Regions from separate parts of the Homo sapiens genome. Here region 2 is linked to region 1. Evidence: fine-mapped expression QTL. A gene starts in region 1. The other region holds a variant in brackets. All regions are shown on one strand. Distances are from middle to middle.

What was found.
Region 2: its variant is fine-mapped to the expression of SLC38A9 in whole blood (INTERVAL, PIP 0.95).

What each region holds. Positions count from the first base shown.
Region 1 is chr5:55,707,414-55,715,923 of GRCh38, reverse strand. It overlaps SLC38A9 (solute carrier family 38 member 9), which reads left to right and starts at 3,600. Exons shown (of 16, transcript NM_173514.4): 1 at 3,600-3,707; 2 at 4,425-4,472. RefSeq lists enhancers at 2,694-3,337, 3,173-3,362, 3,453-3,502, 4,073-4,152.
Region 2 is chr5:55,615,328-55,623,837 of GRCh38, reverse strand. No RefSeq gene overlaps it. Among named protein-coding and RNA genes, the nearest start is that of PLPP1, 85 kb to the right of the region's middle. The variant A/G (reference allele first, on the strand shown) is at 4,712.

The DNA of each region.
Region 1 (8,510 bases):
ACTTACGTCATTCCACTGCTTTCTGAGCTCCATGGTTTCTGATGATAAGCCTACTGTTAATCTTAATGAAGATTCCTTATACATGACCAGTCATTTCTCTCTTGCTGTTGTCAAAATTCTCTGTTTTTGTCTTTTAACAATTTAATCACAATTTGTCTTGGTGTCGATCCCTTTCAATTTATCCGCCCTGAAGTTCATTGAGCTTCTTAGATGTGTAGACGCCTGTCTTTCATTAAATTTGGTAATTTTTCAGCTATTATTTCTTCAAATATTCTTTACACTCCTTTATTTTCTCCTCTCCTTTTGGAATTCCCACTGTGCAAATGTTTGTTTGATAGTGTCCCACAATCCTTACAGGTCTTGTTCATTTTTCTTATTTTTTCTTTCTGTTCCTCAAACTGTATACTCTTGATGTATCTTCAAATTCCCCAATCTTTCTTCTGCCTGCTCAAATCTGCTATTGAACCCCTCCAGTGAACATTATATTTCAATTATTGTGCTTTTCAACTCCAGCAACTCTATTTGCTTTCTTTTTATAATTTCTACCTCTTTAATAGTATCCTCTATTTATTGAACAATTCACTTTTCCTGGTTTCCTTTAGTTATTGTCTATTATTTTCTTTGTTCTTTGAGCATATTGAAGACAGTTGACAATGTCTGGGCTTCCCAAAGGAATGTTCTTTAAAAATGTTTTCCTTATAAATAAGCCATACTTTTTTTCTTTGCATGCCTCATAATTTTTTCTTGTTGACAACTGGACATTTTGTATATAATATGGTAATTATGGACATCTGCTTCTCCCACTCCCCACCAGAGTTTGTTGTTGTTTATTTCTTTTATTAAATGTCTCAAACCAAAAAATAAAAAGATAAAAGCCCAAAATGCGAGAAAACACTCCCAGTCTTTGCCAGTTAGCTATGTGTTCTGGCACCCCTTCAATGCTTAACGAGGTAGTTTACAACGCCACCTTAGCCTTCACTTCCTGCTTGCATGAAAGCTGACGGTCAGTCAGAGGTGAGAGTTTACGGTGTTCTTAGGTTTTTCTCTGAGTATGCATCCAGACCAGGGCATGCCGATGGCCTTCTAGATTCCCCAGAATAAAATGAAGCTTTCCAAAGCCTTTATTCCCCCAACTATCTCCTTCTCCAGCCTCTTCCTTCCCAGGATTTTTGGTCTGTTTATTGCTTGTCCTGGCTTTCATACCTTGCTTTCTGTGACACTGGCTGTTTGCCTTTAATGTTTTTGACAAACACTGCCTGGGAAGCTGCCTGAGCCCTGAGGAAGCTCTGAGGCAGGTGAAACAAAGGCAAGCCGTTGAGTTGAACCTTCAGGAAACCATCAGGGAGGTCAAAACACACCTACAATTCCTTGAGGATAAGGTCCATAGTGCTCCCTCTGGTGCCAGCAACCCACACCAGGAATGTGGCTGCCATCTTCAAGGCCACTGACAACTTGGAGAATAGAAGATGACCACAGAACTCTCTTACCAAAATTCAGCAGTTTTTTCTTCATTACATGTTCCCCTGGATTTTGTGAGTTTTTTTTATCAGTTTCAGAGTTTCCAAAAAAGGTGCTCCTGACAGTTTTGCCAGCTTATTCATTTTTGAGTTCCCTACTTTTTTCCCATTTTTTGCTGACATCATTTCATACTATTTACTTTTGTGTTTCCCAGCCTTGCTTGAAATTATTTTCTCAGCCTGGAATGCAGAAAAAAAAGAAAGGTTGCTATCACTGAAACTATCAAAAGAATGTATTACTGACTTGTGTTACTTGACCAGCCCTGACTTGAAGGCAGGGCCAATGAACAGTTAAAAAAGTTTTTGAACAAGAATACCATCAGCAAAACAACTTTTATCTCCCTTAAAGACAACATTCATTAAATCGTTTGCCTTGCATTTGTCAAGCCCTCCATAATAGACGCAATGTTTGAGAGCACGCAGGCTTTGGGATAAGATCTTAGTATGAATTCCAGATCTTCTGCCACTTAGTAGTTGTTTAGCCTTGTACAAGGCACTTAAATTCTCTGGGACTATTTCCTTTTCTGTAAGACAGGAAAAATATACATTTCTAGAGCTGTGATAAAGACTTAAAGAGATATTATCATTTCCAGAACTGTGGTAAAGACTTAAAAAGATATACACGTAAAATTCTTGGCATTCAATGTTAGCTATTTGTTAAATTTGAATTTTTATTTTATTTTATTTTAGAGACTGAGTCTCGCTCTGTCGCCCATGCTGGAGTGCAGTGGCACAATCTTAGCTCATTGCAACCTCCGCCTACCGGATTCAAGCGATTCTCCTGCCTCAGCCTCCAGAGTAGCTGGGATTACAGGTGCACACCACCACGCCTGGCTAATTTTTGTATTTTTAGCAGAGACGGGTTTCACCATGTTGGTCAGGCTGGTCTCAAACTCCTGACCTTGTGATCTGCCCTCCTCAGCCTCCCAAAGTGCTGCAATTACAGGTGTGAGCCATCGCACCCAGCCTAAATTTGAATTTTCAAGTTTAGGTTTTTTGTTTTGTTTCGTTTTGTTTTTGAGACAGGGTCTTGCTCTGTCACCCAGGCTGCAGTGCAGTGGCACCATCATAGCTCACTGCAGCCTTAACTCCTGGCCTCAAATGATCCTCCTGCCTCAGCATCCCAAGTAAGCTTGACTACAGGCAGGTGCCACCCTGCCCAGTTAATTTTTTAAATTCTTTTGTAGAAATGGGGTCTCCCTATGTTGCCCAGACTGGTCTCCAACTCCTGGCCTCAAGTGATTCTCCCACCTCAGCCTCTCAAAATGGTGAGATTACAGGCATAAGCCACGGAGCCGGTCTAAATTTTTAGTTTTTTTTCTGGCATTACAGACACTGTTTCTTCTGGTTTAAACAGAAAAAAGAAAAAGAAACAAAAAGAGCCACTGGCTTCCTTTGTAAGAAGAGCTTAGGGTGGCCATATGCTTTTCAGGGACTGACCTTGAACTGATTTTCATAACAAGCACATTAATTTTACTTAGACTGTATGTTTACTTGGGGAGGTTTTGGGGAAAATTGCTGGGTATGTGGGGTGGGCCTCTAAAATCCTTCTAAAGCCCCTTTTAGCCTAGAGACTAATTTGCAAACACATTTTTAAAAAACAAACCCAAATATCTAGACGACGGAGGGAGCATGCCAACTCAACAGTTTTTTCAAACCAGCTTCCCTTTGTGTCTGTAGGGTCCAAGGACGTAACCAGATCATACAACACGCGCCAGGAAAGCCCAAAAGAGGGGTGATCCCTCGATGGAGGTGCCGCATCAGCGTTTTCTCACGTGGCCTCCGGGGCTCTATGAATGGCAAGAGATTGCATTCCTTCTACTACCCCTCCCAGCCTCCAGCCGGGACAAGGAACTGGAGCAAACTCGGGGCTGCAGTTCCGACTGGACTCGCCCACCTGGGCGCGCCGGCTGCCCAGCCTCCTGAAGCCTCGGGGCTGGGCCCTGCGGTGATGGGCGTGCTGGCCGTCGCAGAGCCCTCTGGGAGTTGTAGTCCGTAGCGGCGAGAGGTTTGACAGCGACCGCGGGCTTGGCGCATTCAGAACTCCAACTCCCGCCGGCCCCTGCGACCCAGGCTATTGCCGCTTCCTGTTTGGACTAGGAGCCCCGCGGTCGCAAATTGCGAGAATTTGGGAAGGGAATCTTTATCTTCTCGTCTAGTTCTCCGAGGTTGAAGGCTCGGCCTGCTCAGGTAGATCACGTTCCCACGTCTAGCAAACTCGCCCCTCGGGGAGGTGGGAAGGTATCCGAGGGAAGGCGGCGGGAAGGGTTGAAGTTGGGGCGAAGCCGGCTGTCACCTGGGATAGTTCTTTGCAGCGCATCGGAACCGTCTCTTCTTTTGGGGCTCAGGGAGGCCATAGCCTGGAGCCGCGGAGACTGCTCCGGAGGCACGGCGCGCGCTCCTCAAGGGCTCAGGGAAAGAAAGTCAGGAGTCCCTCGGGGTCTGAGGAAATCCGAGTGTCTATGGGAGTCGGTGTCAGCTGGAGCCTTAGAGAAAAGATAGGGTTGGGGTAAATGAACACCCTGACCCTCGGGTGAGAGAAGGAGGGAGTAGGAGAATTGTGGGACTTGCAGGAATGGGAGCACCCTTCTTTCTCTCTCTTGAGATAGGGTCTTGCTCCGTCGCTTGGGCTTGAGTGAGGTGGCGCGATCACGGCTGGGAGCACCTTTCTCCATCCCGAGTTGGGGACATCTAGAGGGGGAACATGAGGGAGGAACCCCCTTTGGGCCTTGAGCTAGGACCACAGAGGGGGTGAGGGCCATGACTGGTAAGCCCTCGCCACGCTTTTCACACGACTCAGTTGTGAGAGTGAGTGTGTTGATAGTGGGTAGCTTGACATCTCAGCATAGTAAAGCTGGAAGAGGGGTTTGAGAGCAGCTAGTCAAGCGCATTCTCCTCATTTTACAGAGAAGGAAACTGAGGTCCACCGAGTTGGAGAAACCTACTCAACACCAGGTAACCATTTAATGGCAAACTCGACCAACACCTAATTGTCATGACTCCCAGGCAGTGTCTTATCCATTGCCGTGCTCTGTAGATGAGCACACTATAAGTTGTAAGTTGTACCTCCACCTTGTTTTCTTTTTTCTTTTCTTTTCTTTCTTTTTTTTTTTCAGACAAGAGTCTCGCTCTGTCGCCCAGGCTGGAGTGCAGTGGAGTGATCTCGGCTCACTGCAACCTCCGCCTCCCTGGTTCAAGCGATTCTCGTGCCTCACCCTCCTGAGTAGCTAGGATTACAGCTGCCCGCCACCACGCCCCGCTAATTTTTGTATTTTTAGTAGAAACGGGGTTTCACCATGTTGGCCAGGCTGGTCTTGAACTCCTGATCTCAAGTGATCCGCCTGCCTTGGCCTCCCAAAGTGCTGGGATTACAGGCGTGGGCCACTGCGCCCAGCCTCTTTTTTCTTTTTAATACCTTCAGACATGACAAAGATCTGACATATGTAGGATAGGCAGCTGCTGAGGAGAAAGATTTTTTAAAAACGTTTTGGCCAGGTGCCGTGGCTCACGCCTGTAATCCCAGCACTTTGGGAGGCTGAGGCAGGCAGATCACGAGGTCAAGAGATCAAGACTATCCTGGCCAATATGGTGAAACCCCGTCTCTACTAAAAAAAAATACCAAAATTAGCCAGGTGTGGTGGCACATGCCTGCAGTCCCAGCTACTCAGGAGGCTGAGGCAGGAGAATCGCTTGAACCCAGGAGGCGGAGGTTGCAGTGAGCTGAGATCGTGCCACCGCACTCCAGCCTGGTGACAGAGTGAGGCTCCGTCTCAAAAAAAACAAAAACAAAAACTAAACAAAAAAAGTTTCAATAGGTCAAAATTACCCATGTCCTAACTTGAGAAAAATCTCTCTGCCTCATAAACAACTACAAACTTCGTGTTAAGATAGAAGGTTCGGCGGATTGCGGTGGCTAACGCCTGTAATCCCAACACTTTTGGGAGGCTGAGGTGGGCGGATCATTTGAGGTTAGGAGTTCAAGACCAGCCTGGCGAACATGGTGAAACCCTGTCTCTACTAAAAATACAAAAATCAGCCAGGTGTGGTGGTATGCGTCTCATCTGTAATCCCAGCTACTTGGGATGCTGAGGCAGGAGAATTGCTTGAGCCCGGCAGGCGGAGGTTGCAGTGAGCCAAGACTGCACCACTGCACTCCAGCCTGAGCCACAGAGGGAGATCCTGTCTTAAAAAAAAAAAAAAAAAAGTTGTCACCTATATAGTTGCTTTGTTTCTAAGAAAATAAAATTTACCTTTCCTTCCCCTAGACTTCTGAGAACAGTTAGACTTAGATTCCTTTTCTTTTCTTTTTCTTTTTTTTTTCTTTTTTTTTTTTTTTTTTGAGATGGAGTCTTGCTCTGTTGCCAGGCTGGAGTGCAGTGGCGCAATCTCAGCTCACTGCAACCCCTGCCTCCCGGGTTCAAGCGATTCCCCTGCCTTAGCCTCCCAAGTAGCTGGGACTACAGGCACACGCCACCATACCCGGCTAATTTTTTGTGTGTGTTTTGGTAGAGATGGGGTTTCACCATGTTGGCCAGGATGGTCTTGATCTCCTGACCTCTTGATCTGCCTGCCTCGGCCTCCCAAAGTGCTGGGATTACAGGCGTGTGCCACACACGCCCAGCCAGTTAGCCTTAGATTTCTAATCACAATCTTAAATACTATATATTTCAGTTACATACATAAAATAATATGCTTTTAATTGTGATTTTATAATACTCTAAATACTTACAATAAAGGGTAAACTCAGCATAGGAGGATGGAATACCAACCTGAACTACAAATTGAAATAGTATTGTTTAGTATTTTTTTTTTCTTTTTGGGGTTAGGGGCAGAGTTTTGCTCTGATACTCAAGCTTTAGTGCAGTGGCACTGTCATAGCTAACTGTTACCTTGAACTCCTAGGTTCAAGCAATCCTCTTGCTTCAGCCTCCCAAAGCATTGGGATTACAGGCATGAGCCACCACACTGGACCTATATGGTATTTTTTAAAAAGTATATATGGGCTTAAAAGTTAAAAAAAAAAAATCACTTAGAGGTTAAAAATGTCTACCAGGCCTGCATTTTGTAACATACTTAAATTTCTGTCGTTTGCTAGGGTTTTTTTCTTTCTTACCACTGAAATATAACTTGAGAGCATTTAGTGTTCCCATTGTAGAAGGAGAGATTCTTTGGTACCACAGCGTTGCTTTGGTAATTTTTTTGTGAGACCACACTATCCTCCAGCACTGTCAAATTTAACGCCTTTTGAAGCATTTATTGATCAGGTTGGAAGCATGTTCCAACTGTCACATCAGAATAGGAGCATTATAGATCCTATTGGCTAACCAGTAAATGATTCATCAGGAAGAGATTTAGATAAGTTTGTTATTGGAGTTTATAGCTGTTACAGACTAATACAGAAGAAAATATATATACATAGCATAACTGCTTCCACCAGGGTGACTTTTTTGTGGTGTGGTTCCATTTGCTTTTATGTTGGCATACTACAGAGGTGAGTAAACTATGACCAAATTTGGCCTGCTGACAGATATATTTTTTTCATAAAGTTCTATTGGAACACAGCCATGCACACTCAATTGCCTTTCATGCTAACAGGTAGAATTGAGTAGCTGCAGAAACTATATGGCTCAAAAAGCCTGAAATATTTATTATCTGACCCTTTACAGAAAAAAATATGTCAACCTCTAGCCTAGGACACTGAGTATAAATGTAGTATCTGAAACTCTATAACATACACAAAAGTATTCAGTAATATTCATTTTTAGTCTCTGAGAAAGAACATATATAATAGTTGTATGTGGGTCCATAGTCACATTTATTTGGGCACAAGCTAGTGTATTCTATTGCAGATTGATGCTAGCATCTTGGCATAGATTCTATAGATTTATTTTTGCAAAGAATTGTGAAAAGACATTTCTGAGCCTAGTATGGAAAGGGCTGATATTCTTTGAGATACGCCAATAATCACAGTCAATACCTTTTTAAAATAATGTCATACCAGTTTACTTTGATTGCTCTCTATGTCCTTTTTACGGAGAGAAGTGCTTCAGTACAGGCACTAACATTTTTTGTTCTTTTAGAGACAGTCTCACTCTGTCACCTGGGCTGGAATGCAGTGGTGCCATTGTAGCTCGCTGCAATCTCGAACTCCTGGGCTCAAGCAGTTCTCTCACCTCAGCCTCCCGAGTAGCTGAGATTACAGGCATGAGCCACCATGCCTGGCTCAGTCACCAACATTTTAAATAAAAGTCGAAAGTACCAAGCAAGTCAACTAAGCTGTTCATTCCCTACTGGGACCTATCTCAGTCTCTTGGTGCTGCTCTAATGAAATACTTGAGGCTAGGTAATTTATAAACAATAGAAATTAATTTCTAGCAGTTGTGGAGGCTGGGAAGTCCAAGATCAAGCCACCTGCAGATTTGATGTTTGGTGAGGACCCGGTCTCTGCTTCCAAGATGGTGCCTTGGTGCTGTGTCCTCACATGGGGGAAGGGATGGAAAGACAAAAGGGATCTAGCTAGTTCCCTTCAAACTTTTCATAAGGTTACTAACTCCATTCATAAGGGTTCTGCCTTCCTGACATAATTACCTCCAAAAGGGTCTACCTGTTAATACTATAACATTGGCAATTAAGTTTCAACATATGAATTTTGGACGGGACACAAACATTCAAATCATAGCTGGACTCCTTATTAAAACCAATCTTAAACAATTAGAGACTCATTTAATGACTTAGATTTGACTTAGTGGTCTTGCATCTGGGACTTTGTTTTAAAACTCAGAGATTGAGTGAGATGTTAAAAGTGATTATGTCTGGGTTTTGTTTTGAGACAGAGTCTTGCTCTGCAACCTCTGCCTCCTGGGTTCAAGCAATTCTCCTGCCTCAGCCTCCCGGGTAGCTGGGACTACACGTGTGTGCCACCACTGCTGGCTAATTTTTGTACTTTTAGTAGAGACAGGGTTTCACTATGTTGGCCAGGCTGGAATATGTCTG
Region 2 (8,510 bases), 92 kb after region 1:
TTTAATATATTTTTGTCCATTTAATGAACTAAGTGAATATGACAATGAATGAGGTATTTACTAAACTAAAAGACAATGTGAATCTTTGCTATTGTTTCTTTAAAAGACTTGATGTGAGGCCGGGCATGGTGGCTCATGCCTGTAATCCCAGCACTTTAGGAGGCCAAGGTGGGCGGATCACATGAGGCCAGGAGTTCAAGACTCAGCCTCGCCAACACAGTGAAACCCCGTCTTTACTAAAAATACAAGAATTAGTTGGGCGTGGTGGCGTGCACCTGTAATCCCAGCTACTCAGGAGGCTGAGGCAGGAGAATTGCTTGAACCCAGGAGGCGGAGGTTGCAGTGAGCCAAGATCACGCCACTGCACTCCAGCCTGGGTGACAAAAGCGAAATTCCATCTCAAAAAACAAAACAAAACGAAAAGACTTGATGTGGGCACAGCTGTGATCCCAGCTCTTGGAAGACTGAGGTGGGAGGATCACTTGAGCCCAGGAGTTCAAGACCAGCCAGGACAACATAGTGAGACCCTGTCTCTACAAAAAAATAAATTTAAAAAAAATTAGCTGGGCACAGTGTCATGCAGCTGTAGTCCCAGGTACCCAGGAAGCTGAGGTGAGAGGATTGCTTGAGCCCAGGACATCAATGAGCCCTGATTGTGCCACTGTACTCCGGCCTGAGCAACAGAGTAAGACCCTGTCTCAAAAAAACAATTTTTTTAATTAAAGAAAAAAATAATTGGCTGGGTGTGGTGGCTCACACCTGTAATCCCAGCACTTTGGGAGGCCGAGGCAGGCAGATCACCTGAGGTCGGGAGTTTGAGACTAGCCTGACCAACATGGAGAAACCCCCATCTCCACTAAAAATACAAAATTAGCCGGGCGTGGTGGCGTGTGCCTATAATCCCAGGTACTCAGTAGGCTGAGGCAGGAGAATCGCTTGAACCCGGGAGGCAGAGGTTGCAGTGAGCTGAGATCGTGCCATTGCACTCCAGCCTGGGCAACAAGAGTGAAACTCCATCTCAAAAAAAAGAAAAAAAGACTCGATAATTTAGAACTTCTAAAATCTTGTATTAGACTTACGCTGTATGACTTTGCCTTCTTAAGTTTTTTTTTCATGAGATCAACTCTTTGGCCTATTATTTGGCTTGGTCAGAGAACTCTTTGTAAGTGTGTATATCCTGGCCCACACATTAGAATGATGAGATATGAAGTCATTCATATCTCAACTAATTTTAGACCTTCTTTGTCTGCTGTCATCTCTTTGAATTTTCTAATTGAATTTCTTTCACTTTTTGCTCTCATGCTTAACTCTTGAATTTAGCTTAACATACAACTGAGGATATTATTAAGTAAAATATGGATTATTTAGAGGGGTCTTCCTTAGAAAGTCTATATATGAATATGTGGTATGCTAATAGCCAGAAAGGACAAAGAAAATTAAGTTTGACACCTGTGGGTGATCATCCAAAATCAATTTTATTATCACACCCAAAAAATGCTTTGATGTAAGGAATAAATTTATTCATAAAAGGGGACTATATTAAAGGGAAATACTTTATTTATATTAAGTATATTTTGCAAATGCAATGCAGCTACTAACTATAGAAGTAAAAGACTTTTCTGTCCAGTGCTTTGGAGGAGATAAAGATGTATAAGACATCATTCATATCTGAAATGAACTTTTAATCTAGTAAAGGAACTGTGTATATAATTAACTATGATGCAAAGCAATTTATACTGAGGACTATTAGAGAAACAGATCCCTTTCAGTTGGGAGCCTTGAGGAGGGTTGATAAAAGAAGCCGAGAGGTCAAGCAGCAACGACCCATTTTCAGGTTCCTCCTCATAACTGTCCAAAATTTAATATTTGGTACCTTCACCAGCAAATGCAATCATATAGGTTAAATGTATTCGCTTTTAGTTTGGTAAATTTCCTCTAAGATAAGTTTTCTGCGACTTGTTTAATGCTTCTGTATGCTATTTATTCTCTTTGCATTTTGAACACATTGCATTATTCTGTTAATCTTGGACAGCAAAGCACAATGGATTAATAGGGCAAATAATTAGTAACACATTGGGTGGTACAAACAGAAAAATGCATAAGTTTTTCTCACCAAAGATTTGACTTATTTAAATATCAGTATTCAAAGTGTCAAATGTTTGAACTCATTGATAAGAGCAGAAAATATTGATGTTGTATGTTTTCTTTACAAAGCACTGACCTAATTGCTTTTTAGAATCTGGTGGTGGTGGTTTTTGTTTTTTCTAAACTCAATTTCATCCCCATTAGAATATCCAAAACCAAATCCAAATCTAGTTGACACCTAAACAGTAGAATGTTACATTAGTTTGTGACCCAAAGTGAAATTAATCCCCTAGATGCACACAAACTGGCCTGGCTGGCCGGTTTTACAGTCCACTGCTGCCTTCACTTCAGATTATGTAAACACGTGTTGTGAAACAGCTCTGACGGGAACCTTATAACCTAAACATTGTTCTCTGAAATGTAATTTGTTGTCTTTTATATAAAAGAAGAAATTAAATCAAAGATAATTTGAAGGAAAACAACTCTGGGATTTTGTTTAATTGAATTTTGCTGGGAAATATTATTGCTTGGTAGCACTGGCCCCAAGGTCAGGAAGAAGCTGGGTTCCATCTTTCGCCGGGTCAAACTTCTCAAGTGACTTTGCCCCTGTGCCTCACATCAGGCCCCAAGGAGCCCCGCAAAGTGTTCTGATCCTAAAGAAAGGCATTACATTATGTTAACTGAAACCTAAAATGACTATATCTTTAGGACAATATACTGTTGTGACCTCTCCCTCTAAGAATATTTCCGATGAATGTTAAGTAGAGCCTAGTTCCTGGAAGAGCTTGATGTCCTAATCCTCCAGAGCCACTTAAGCCAATAGAGGGCTCTAATTTTCCCCCTTCTCTAAGTACTATTACTTCTTCCCCAGTATTATTTTTATGTTCCATCTCTTCGGCAAAAATAAAATAAGGCTATGTCTTTTTCAACTTCTCTATTCTCTTTTGAGATGGAGTCTCGCTCTGTTACCCAGGCTGGAGTACAGTGGTGCAATCTTGGCTCACTGCAACTTCCACCTCCCGAGTTTAAGCAATTCTCCTGCTTCAGCCTCCCAAGTAGATGGAATAACAGGAGCCAGCCACCACAACCAGCTAATTTTTGTGTTTTCAGTAGAGACGGGGTTTTGCCATGTTGGCCAGGCTGGTCTCTCTCAAACTCCTGACCTCAAGTGACCCACCCCAGCTCAGCTTTGCGGAGTGCTGGGATTACAGGCCTGAGCCACTGCGCCTGGCCATTCTTACTTATCTCAGGCCATAAAGTACAGGCCTGCGATGGGGATGGGAAATTGCTCACACTCCAGATTTTTCCTCCTTTGGCTCTCTCTCAATCCCAAGTGATCCTATTGTTTGGTCATAGTAGGCACTCAATATACACTTGTTTAATCAATTAATTAACTAGTCAGGATTCTTTATGGAAAATAATAAGGTAATTGCTATTATCTAGGATGTTGTTCCATAGCCCCAAAACCATTACAAAATAAAATTGGGGTCAGCAGGTTCAATATTAGTCATTCAGTCAATAACTAAGTACTGACTGGTTGCCAGACCTTATGCTAAGCACTGAGCATACAGTGGTGAACAAGCCAGATGTGGCTCTGACACTTTAATATCCCTCACCAACCTCTAGGCATCAACAACCAGGTCATCCTTCCAGGTGTCACCGAAATGCCAGGCTATTGCCCCTTCCTGCTGCCTGTCTCAACTGAATGCTGTGCTGTGGCCACATCATACACATGTTTTGAAGAGAAGAATATAGGACAATGTTGCAGTAAGTAGGTCTCTGTAAAGTGAATCATTTTTATCAAAATAAAACTGCTTTTAAAAAGTTAGAGCTGGGTGCCGTAGCTTGCACTTGTAATCCCAGGTACTCAGGAGGCTGAGGTGGGAGGATCACTTGAGGCCAGGAGTTTGAGACCAGCTTGTGCAACATAATGAGACGCTGTCTCTGAAAATAATAACAGAAAGTTAACCAGGCATGGTGACACACTTGCCTGTAGTCCTAGCTACTTAGGAGGCCAAAGCGAGAGGATCGCTTGAGGCCAGGAGTTCAAGGCTGCAATGAGCTGTGATTGTACTACTGCACTCCAGCTTGGGTGACAGAGCAAAAAAAAAAAACGACAACAAAAAACCTAGGTTAATGATAATCACATAAGGTTATGTGGTCACAGAATGAACATGAATGACGTTTTATGGGGGATTCTAAGTGACTCATTTATGTTATTACTTTATTATTTAACAGATTTTTCTAAAAAGATGTCTGTCTAAGATAAATCATGGAAAAGAAGACTTGTAGAAATATAGCTACAGTCAACCCATTAAATCAAGAACCTACCGACGGAGAACCTTTAGGATAGGTGAGAAAGATCCTTGGTGAAAGGGGTAGATTCAGGTTTTGTGGGGCCTGAGGCTTATACAGTTTGGAGTTATCTCTTTAAGGAGATACACAACATTAGGAGTCCCAAATTAGAAAGGAGGCCGACCGGGTGCAGTGGCTCACACCTGTAATCCCAGCACTTTGGGAGGCCAAGGCGGGCGGATCAGCTGAGGTCAGGAGTTCAAGACCAGCCTGGCCAACATGGCAAAACCCAGACTCTATTAAAAATACAAAAATTAGCCAGGCATGGATG[A/G]TGGCGGGTGCCTGTAATCCCTGCTATTCAGGAAGTTGAGGCAGGAGAATCGCTTGAACCCAGGAGGCAGACGTTGCAGTGAGCTGAGATCGCACCACTACACTCCAGCCTGGGCAACAAGAGTGAGACTCCGTTTAAAAAAAAAAAAAAAAAAAGGAGCCCATGCAAGTGAGGAGCCTTGACAGCAGCTTTAAGGCAAACCATCCACAAACCACTCTGCGCAGGGGCAACTGGAAGGAATGTTAGAAGGAGGAATAAGAAGAAATGTTTCAGTCACCTTGTTTGATTATGTCAAGCTCTGAGTTTCTCCACTACCTTTAAGAACTGCAACTTTTACCAAACCTAAGCATTATTTCTGGAACAGTTAAATTGGATTTAGCAAAATAGCATGGGATACAAATTCAGTAATGGTTGAGATCAAAGTAGGACATTTTTCTTTTTTAGATTGGAAAGTTTTTACCTGGGTATGGGTCTTTTAAGAGATACTTTCAGCAATATTGAAGAATTCAAAGAACGGTTTAATTTTCAAAGAGTTTCTAGTATTAGTCTATCTTAGCGATGAGGAACCTTTTAAGGGCTCTTGACGCATAAAACAAACAACCAAGAGCAACATTAGAGTAAGGCAACATTTCTTTATACTCCACCTTGTTCCAGAAAGGATCTAATTCTACTGCACGAAAGTGCCCAGCTTTAAAGGATTAATGTTAAGTTTTTTTTAGAAACTAAATTAGAAATTTATGACACTCCTTGAGGAGAGGAAACTAAGACTTAATTCACATAAATAATTTTATCACTCCTCGGTGCTGTATTATATATAAAACCTTTATTGCAGATAGATTAAAGCCCAATCCAATGCAGTAAACTTTTACTCATTGTCCTAGAGTTGGAAATGCAAAGATAGAGCCATCATTTCTAGTGCTGCCAGAGTTATCTTTAATTAATATGAAACTGACTATGCCTTTCTCTGTAAAATCCTTCAGTGCCCCAGTAGAAAAATAGGCACAGGGCTGAACATGGTGGCTCACATCTGTAATCCTAACACTTTGAGAGGCCAAGGCAGGAGGATCACTTGAGCCCAGGAGTTCAAGACCAGCTTGGGCAACATATCAAGACCTCATCTCTCCTAAAAATTAAAAAATTTGCCAGGCATGGTGGCATGTGTCTGCAGTCCTGCATCCAGAGTTGGTTCCTTCCAGTGGGTTCTTGGTCTCGCTGACTTCAAGAATGAAGGTGCGGACCTTTGCGGTGAGCATTACAGCTCTTAAAGGTTGCACAGATCCAGAGTGAGCAGATTTATTGTGAAGAGCCAAAGAACAAAGCTTCCACAGCGTGAAAGGGGACCCAAGCAGGTTGCCGCTGCTGACTGGGGCGGCCAGCTTTTATTCCCTTATTTGTCCCCATCCATGTCCTGCTGATTGGTCCATTTTACAGAGCACTGATTGGTCCATTTTACAGGGTGCTGATTGGTCCATTTTACAAACCTCTAGCTAGCTACAGAAAAGTTCTTCAAGTCCCCCTCCTGACCCAGAAGTCCAGCTGGCTTCACCTCTCAATCCCCCCTCTAAACATGACACCCCAACTACTGTTGGGAATTGGGCAATGACCACTCTAGCTACTTCTGCTGGATAGGGGCGAAGAAGGGGCCCTGCAGTGGTAGTGTCCTCCAGAGGGGAACTCTCTAGGCCAGTCAAAGATCCAGGGGTCCTCAGTAGAAGTTTTGAGTTGAGCTCATTTGGGGTTCCATTTGTAAGACCATCTGTAGCTTGATGGCCTCCATCCTGGAGGAAACAAATTTGACAAGCAGGTTAAAAATACAGGGCCCGAAGGTGAGTAATAGCAAGATGGCTGTCACGGGACCTAGAAAGGGGAGAAGCCATGTTGCCCAACTCCAGAGGTTGGTATAAGAGTTTGAAAGGTGTTGTCTGATTCAGAAGCCTTTTCCTGTAAATGCCAGGCAGTGTCTCATACTATCCCTGACTGGTTAGTGTAAAAGCAACACTCTTCCCCTAAGAAGGTGCACAGTCCTCCTTTCTCAGCAGTGAGGAGGTCTAGGCCTTGGCGGTTTTGGAGAGTTACTGCTGCCAAAGAGTCTATTTGGGATTGTAGAGTAAGGATAGATTTTGTTATTTCTTGTAAACTGTCAGAAATCTTTTGAGAGTGTGTGGTAGTAGGATAGTGAAGTAGATAAACTGGCTATTCTGGTTCCTGTAGCAGTGGCCATTCCTAACCCTTTAAGTAGGGGTATTAGTTGTATGGCTCTGTGCTAACTGACTTGAGCTTTGAGGGGTACTGATAGGGTCTGATTTCCACAAGCTTTGAAGTTAGGATAACACATTTTATACTGTTAACTTTTAGCAAACTTTACTTCTGTTGAAAACCTTGTAAGTTTGGGATATCAATTATTCTTTGCTATTAATAAGACCTCATTCAGTCCATATTAACTTAAAATTGGTATAGATGGCTCCTTCCTGATTCTGTAAGTACTTTAAGGTTTAGCTGAGGGCAAACAGCTTGCGTGTTTGAGCAGATCAATTATTAGGCAATTTTCCTAACTCTGCTTTTACAAGAGTTTCCTTATCACTTACTGAATACCCATTGTGTCTTTTTCCCTTAATTGCCTGAGAGGAACCATCTATCTTCCTGTCCTGAAGGGAGTTCTTCCTAAGTCTGGTCGGACCTTTGTATAGTAATTAACTAAGATTTAGATCCCCTGTTAGGAAACCTGCTGGGTTAAGGATTTTTGATAGGAAGGCTATGGGCTGTCAGTGCCTCAGTGTTTTTGGGCTACGCCCTTGTTTACACTGACAACAAGGTGGTAATGGAGTGTTATGGAGTGTCATGGAGAAGACATTCAATTATCAATTATAGGTTTTAAATTTACCCTGGCTTTTAAAGGAATAGGGTACACTGTTTTTTCTTTACTACTTCTATCTCTCTTTCTCTCTCTCTGACTCCTTGTCTGTCTCTCTCTTTCTCTCTGACTTCCTCTTTGTCTCTGTCTCTTCCTCTCTTTCCTTCTCTCTTTGACTTTCTGTCCTCCCCCCCATTCTCTTTGACTTTCTGTTTTTGCCCTCTCTCTCTCTCTCTCTCTCTGACTCCCTCTTTGTCTCTCTGTCGTTAAGCACCCCGAGGGGAGACAACTATGCCCCCGTGAAAGTCCCCATTCTGTTTCAGTCGGGAATACTGGGGCTTAATCTGTTGGAGAGGGTTGTTCTATACCAAGGGTCCTTCCGTAGGTATTTCCGATGGGAGGTTCTGCCTGGCAGCAATTTTGGCCTCAGCATCTGCCCGATGGTTTCCTTCTGCCTTTTCTTCTTCACCTTTTTGATGGCTTTGGCAGTGTAAGACTGCCAGCTCCTTGGGTTTTTGCACTGCATGCAACAGCTTCATGATTTCCTTGTGGTATTTAACGGAGGTTCCCCCAGATGTTAGGAATTCCTTTTCCATATTGCAGCATGGGCACGTAGGATTAGATAAGCATACTTGCTATCTGTATACACATTTATCCTTTTTCCCTTTCCCAGTTCTAAGGCTCAGGTAAGTGCCACTAGTTCTGCTAACTAGGCACTGGTTCCTCGGGGAAGAGGCTTACTTTTGAGTACTGTTACATTACTAACTATGGCATAACATCACTAACTATGGCATAACCTGCCTTCCGTATCCGATTATCCACAAATCAACTTCCATCGGTATATAAGATTAGGATTAGCTAAGGGGACTTCTAAGAGATCCTCTCCGGTGGCATAAGTCTGGACTATAATTTGTTGGCAGTCATGCTTGATTGGTTCTCCATCCTCTC